Linked DNA regions of Homo sapiens: region 2 is reported to be linked to region 1. The links are microRNA targets in miRTarBase. Many come from high-throughput screens and were not tested one by one. Region 1 holds a microRNA gene; the other region holds the end of a gene's coding sequence.

What was found. The annotated mature microRNA hsa-miR-934 reads UGUCUACUACUGGAGACACUGG and lies in region 1 at 2,458-2,479, opposite strand. An mRNA with a match to its seed (bases 2 to 7 or 8) in the 3' UTR can be bound and repressed. Matches are read on the target gene's strand: a 7mer-m8 pairs with bases 2 to 8, a 7mer-A1 pairs with bases 2 to 7 and ends in A, and an 8mer does both.
Region 2: the mRNA of TIPRL is a reported target of hsa-miR-934. Seed matches in the 3' UTR shown: 8mer at 2,238-2,245.

Annotation. Positions count from the first base shown.
Region 1 is chrX:136,549,949-136,553,370 of GRCh38, reverse strand. MIR934 (microRNA 934) reads right to left here and starts at 2,493; the gene lies at 2,411-2,493. It overlaps VGLL1 (vestigial like family member 1), which reads right to left. Exons shown (of 5, transcript NM_016267.4): 4 at 2,550-2,603.
Region 2 is chr1:168,199,374-168,202,795 of GRCh38, forward strand. It overlaps TIPRL (TOR signaling pathway regulator), which reads left to right. Exons shown (of 7, transcript NM_152902.5): 7 at 530-2,736. The coding sequence ends at 673. Among named protein-coding and RNA genes, the nearest start is that of TIPRL, 22 kb to the left of the region's middle.

The sequences.
Region 1 (3,422 bases):
CCATTGCACTCCAGCCTGGGCAACAAGAGCAAAACTTCATCTCAAAAAAAAAAAAAAAAAAAAAGAATAAAACATGAAGAGGCAACTGAGTCTCATGCCAAATCTACTCCCCCAGGAAGTGGGGGAGCAGGATCTGGGCAGTGAACAAGCTCCCCAGGTGGTTCGTACCATCAGGCAAGATTGGGAGACTGGTGTCATGCTTAAGAGCATGGGCTTTGCTGGGTTCCATTGTCCTTTTACTTGGAGCCCTAGGAAGTCCCTTCTCTTCCTCTCAGCTCCATGTTACCTCCCTCTGCCCAGGGCCACAGTGTTAGAAAGGCAGACTTGGGCCTGTTGGCATAGCCACCTTTCCTCAACTACTCTCTGCAAGGAAAGAACATCCCCCACCTTCTTTCCCAAAGGTATATTTTTCTTTGCTCTTTTGCTTGCTTTCTGAGCCTTCTGCATCCCCCTTCCTTTATTTTAGGATAGTGCCCTGGTCCCAGATAGACAGTGAACTCATGTGTGGTAAAATAATCTCACCAGTGACTAATTTTCACTGTTGTATACTTGATTTAACTTGGAATTGTTTCTGATAATTTTATGACACTGTGAGAGCAAGGAGATAATACTGCATCTGCCACTTGCTGCTGTGTGATTTAAGGCAAGTCCTTTCACCTTTTTGAGATCCAGTTTCTTCATCTATAAAATGGGGATATTCATTCATTCAATCACTATTTACTGAATATCGGTTGAGTAAAGCACCTAGGACATATTCACATACACCTCACAAGGTCATGGTGGGGACTAAGCAAGATGGAGTATGTGGTATGTGGCTCATAGTCAACACCCAATACATGTTGTTGTTGCTGTTAGTTTTAGTCTATGAACAATTTTAAGCATCAAGTTATCAGTAATTCTGAGACTCACAATAAACAAATGTAGAAACTATTAACAAGTACTCAGGAAACACCACAATCCTTGCCTTTCATAAGTTAGAAGGCCAGCAGAACTCATTTCCTTGGGCAGGGACTTATGTGATGCCTGCCTTGGCTATGCTAAGGCTTTTGAACCAGCTCTAAATGAATCTCCTCATGGAGGCATGGCCAATTAATCACCAGGGTTGGTTTTTGTTTTGTTTGTCTCTCACACGAAGGCATCAAACAGAATAATTTTTACTACATTGGAATAATTTTTACTACATTACTACATTTTCTTACTGTTTCCTTGTTAAATGCTCTTTTATTGTTTCCAGCATTCACTCATTCATTTATTCAACAAATTTGTATACCACTGTGCAAGGTGCTAGGGATACAGTGGTATACCTCTCAAAGTCTCAGTCCTCATGGGGTTGACATTCTAGTGGGGTCTATAGATTGCCCTCACCCCTACTTCACACCAGACTGTCAAATGCCTGAGATCAGGGGCTGTGGTAGTGGCTCTTCCTTTGGATCCTCTCTATTTTTATTTTTTATGGAGATGAGGGTCTTGCTATGTTGCCCAGGCTAGTCTCTAACTCCTGGGCTCAAGTGTTCCTCCCGCCTTGGCCTCACAAAGTGCTGGGATTACATGTGTGAGGCACCACACCCAGCTTGAGTCCTCTCTTAAACACAGCACACAGAGCACAGCTTGGGGAACACAGGATGCCCTCCAAAAAGAATTCTTGATGGTTTAATGTATGCCAACGCTTAGAGTAATGTGCCAGCCATTATTCTAAGCATTGGTATACATTATTTCATTTACTCCTCACACCTCACCCAATGAGGTGGGCACTATTTTATGCTTATTTGACAAAAATGAAGCAACTGGGGCATGAAGTGGTTAAGAAATGTGACCAGGTTCCTGAAGCAAGTAAATAATAAAGCTGGCAATTGACCCTGAACCCAGGTCATGAAGATCCTCCTGTCATTCCACCCAGATTGTCCTCTTTTGTAAGTTCCCACTGACACCACTTTCAAATTGAGTGTGGAGCTCAGAGTCCTGGCCTCATGCCTCAGTTGACATTTTCACTGACTGCAGAGTCCTGGGGTGGCCCTATGTACTAGGCTGAAAACTGAACATCTGGGACACAGCAAGCTAATCCTCATCCTCATGAATTTCTTAATTTTTCTGGGTCACCTTGGCTATTTCAGTTAAGTCCAGCTCAGGTTAAAAAAAAAGAAATAAATAAAAGAATACTAGGCTGAAAACTGAACATCTGGGACATAGCAAGCTAATCCTCATCCTCATGAATTTCTTAATTTTTCTGAGTCACCTTGGCTACTTCAGTTAAGTCAAACTCAGGTTAAAAAAAAAAGAAAGAAAGAAAAGAAAAAAGAAACTAAGGAGAGTTTCTTCTATAGCAAAATAAAATTTTACAAGATAGGAAGTGCATATACTCTTTTTTGAGGCTAAAATGAAACAAATTCTATCTATGAAAACACTGAGTGATAGAAATAAGGCTCCCGTCCATTACTGGAGACTCTGGGTTTTATACTACCAGTGTCTCCAGTAGTAGACAGAAGCCTTATTTCTCAAGTTCGTTCTCAGGATACAGACACACACCATCAAAGGCTGGCCCAGATACCTACTTTCATTTGGAAGGCTGGTACTGGCAGATCCACGAGATACATATAGTTTCTTATCTAGAAAAGAAGAAGAAAACATTATTGGAACTGAAATTTCTAGGACTAGGTTAGAGAGTGCCCAGTAGCATTCCAGGGGCCCCACATTGCCTGGCCCTAAGTTTATGAATATCTAGCATATTCTCTCATATCAGATGCTACAAAAACTGAGAAGCTTCTGTTTTAAAGGTCCACCACCTTCCAAGGCAGTGTTCCTGATTAAGGGTCACTGACTTCCTCAACAGATCCTGGACTTCCAGTCACCAATTAATACAACTCATGTCAACATGAGTAGAGCATGAAGACCTTGGTGATAACCATTTGTTTGTGAATGTGTCTTGAGATTTCAGGAATAGGACAATGCCTGCATTAGTTTCACCATGATGTGCCTTGCTTACAGTAGATGCTCACTAAATATTTGCTGAATTGGACTTGAACTGTAAAGAGTTGCTAAGTTTGGAAGGTGATGATTTCAGCCATCTGTGTTCTAACCTACTGTCGAAACAGGGCTTTGCTGTGTGTATGCACAGGCATATATACAAGCACAGTTGGCCTAATTTTCCCTGTGAATCCAGTAGGAAAGGACTTTTGAAAAAGAGTAGAGGGGTAGGAAATTTCACAGGTTTCCCAAACATGACACTTCTATGATTTACTCCTTAAGTACATTCCTAATCAAATTCTGGAAATGACAGAGTGGTATTTTAATGGGAAATTTGTTTTCCACATTAGAATAGAACACAGTGCCTGACTTAGGTAGGCTATGCTGAACAGGCCTTTTGTTTACTATATGCTTAGTTCAGTGTAAAGATGGCTTCTAGTAATTTCTTTCAGGCATGGAAC
Region 2 (3,422 bases), not on the chromosome of region 1:
GTTTGTTTTGGCATCATTTTTCTTTATTTTTTACTCCCCGGGACCTGTGAAGCCTTCCTTAGAACTTAGGATTCTATAATGGGTTGCTTAAAAATTGGTACCTTCCTATAAACTTGATTTTATTTTTTCACGCTTAGTATGTACTTCTGTCTGGGTATAGAGTATACTTGGAACAGAAAAGTTACTACTTAGATTCTATTGTAGACTACATGCTGTGCTCTAACCGAAGACTAGTGTTTTCAAGTTACAAAAGCAGGAGATACATAGGGTTGGATTAAGATGTATTAAATTCTTAGGACATTTGTGGGAACATTATAGATTATATAACCCTGTGATCTTTGATGAAATCATTCAGTAACAAAGTTGAATGATTCCGTATCAAGAAATACCTATTATTTTTAGGAGCACATATGCATATATTGCACCTGATTTTAAAATTTCCATGCTTTATGAATGCTTGAACCAAAACATTTGTAAAAAATTTCAGTACAGTAACTGAATATGCTAATATGATTTATGTATTTCCTAGCATGTTCCACCTTCCCTCTTCACGGAACCTAATGAAATATCCCAGTATTTACCAATAAAGGAAGCAGTTTGTGAGAAGCTAATATTTCCAGAAAGAATTGATCCTAACCCAGCAGACTCACAAAAAAGTACACAAGTGGAATAAAATGTGATACAACATATACTCACTATGGAATCTGACTGGACACCTTGGCTATTTGTAAGGGGTTATTTTTATTATGAGAATTAATTGCCTTGTTTATGTACAGATTTTCTGTAGCCTTAAAGGAAAAAAAAATAAAGATCGTTACAGGCAGGTTTCACTCAACTGCTGTTTGTACTGTCTGTCTTCACATTCATATTCCAGATTTATATTTTCTGGAGTTAAATTTGGATGATTTCTAAATTATCACAAAGTGGGACCTCAGCAGTAGTGATGTGTGTGTCTCATGAGCAGTGAGCACAGTCTGCATTCATCATGAAACACTATCTTCTACCAGGAGGAGGTTAATGTAAATCACCAAATCCCAATGCCTTGTGACTTTCATAGGATTCCTGATCATGCATGTTGATGTACTGGCTCTTCACTTTGGGCTTTCTGATGTTTATTCACACCTTTGGAGAGTTGCAACTTGCCACATACGAAATTAGTCTCATAGTGTAGTGAACTTCAACCCCAAAATTTTAAAAATGTATTTCCCCCCAGTTTTAAATTGCCTTTGAAATTTAAAAAAAAAAAATTTAGACTTAGTACCAGAACCAAAAATACCTAGATTTTTGGAGAACTTATTACATACATAGAAACATGAATATGGTTTACCACTGTGTGTGTGTAGGATGTTAGAATTATCTGTCCTCCATCTTTAGGTGCTTTTTCTTAAATGTGGTTCTACTTATACTGATATTTTTAATTTCCATCTTCCATGCAACCTCAGAGTGAATAAACCCCTTAAATTTGGTGCTGGTTCGAAAAAGTCTAAAGGGTTTATTAGGGGTTGTTTTTCGCAAATATTACATCAATCCTTAAAGCAACAAGATTAATTTTCTGCTTAAAATATTTGGGAAGATAGGTAAGGAGGAGGGGGTTTTAAAATATAAAAGCAAGTTTTTCTATTTTAAGGTGCATATTTGTAACATTACAGGGGATGAAGTAAAATGTAATTAATTAGCACAAGACTTAGGGAGTACAGAAAATACACAGAAGTAAATTTCAAATCCATTTGATTGTTTTCATAGTGACCCCTTAGTCATTTTATATTCTTGTCTGCCTTTCTAGAAAAATGGTTGTCATAAAGTGGAAAGTGATTAAAAAGCATCAAATAAGAAATTATTTCAAGTGGATTTTTAAAAATATTTTTTTGAAGGGCAGGGGGAAAATTCACCCCTTTTCTGATTTGAAATATGTTGTACATATTTCCATTTGATGGATAAATCATTAAGTAAGAATATTTGATTTAAAGTATTAGCCAACCTCTTCAGGTATTAGCCTGAAGATAAATTTTAACAAAACATATACACTTGGGTATCCGTCATTGCTCAAACTCTATAGTGTATTGCTGGAGCCAATAGGCAGGGTATATTTTATTAGCTAAATTTGATATTTGTCTTCTGCCTTCTGTATCACCTCCAAGCTATAGGAAATCAGGATTTTGTTGGCTTTAAGAAAACACATGGTATGTTCACTGTATATTAAATATACCTGTATTTAATGTTTTCTCTTAGGACAGAAAAGTAGACACACACACACACACACACACACATGTTGTGTTCAGCTTTCTGTTTTATATTATTTGCCATTGAGATTAGAATAGAACAGGCTCTATTCATGCAAACTATATGAAATGAAAAACTTTTAAGACTCTTCATTAATTGGAGCTTCTGGGCAACATCGTGTGTGTGTGTGTGTGTGTGTGTGTGTGTGTGTGTATACAGACATTTTTTTTTTAACTTGTTGATTCAGATGTCTTGGTCCCTGAATAGTCCTAGATTACTTATTTTGAGAATTCATTGTTAAAAATTACAGGGAATTAAAATAATTGCCTTTTTTTTTTTTAGAGGGTAAGAGATGGGTAGAAGAGTATGCCTCTGAAAATTTTATTAGTTTATTCTTGTGGAGAATACCAAGAAAATGTGTATTTGCCCATTGCTAAATATGATATATGCCATTTTGTATTTATTTGTCCCAAGTGTCTTTTTGTAAGAGGAGAATAAACAATAAGGAATTACTGATCAAAGTTTTACTATTTCATTTATTTGAGTTTTTCTTAGAGCTTAATTAAAGAAGTGTGGTTTGGGGTATACTTTTCTTATTTGTGCTTTATGTTTTGAACTCAGTCAACACTGTAGACAGTCTCCAGGCAGGTTATAAATTAAAACCTAACTGATGGTTCAGAATACAATTTCCCAGTTTGCATTTGGGCTCTTGCCTCTCCTCTCCCTCTGTTCATCAATATTTCCATGGATGTTTTTTAACAGTATTTTCTGTATGTTGGGTTAATGTTTTTGGTTTTTGAAAATATGAATACCTGTCGTATGTATTAGTTTTGAGTACTATATGTACAATTATGGTGCTAGGTATAATAGATTACAACAATGAAGCGATGTAGTATATGTTTTTATAGGATTAAAGTCTAATGGAGGAGACAAAGTAAAAAAATTACTAATTTTAATATGTGCAGTGATGGAAATGATACTGACAAGAGAGTAACAGAAAATCAACTAACTTTAGTAGAGGTAGTCAGAGCTCTGCTTCTCAAGAAGATGTGGAAAACCTCAAGAGACTGTCATTCCCATTTTAACAAGGAGAAAAGGCTGGGTCATCTATAAAATTAAAGCTTTTTTTCTTGAACATATCAAAGAACTGAAATTACAAGGCAAACAAACCAAATCCCAAAGAGTGATAAGCCCTACAAGGA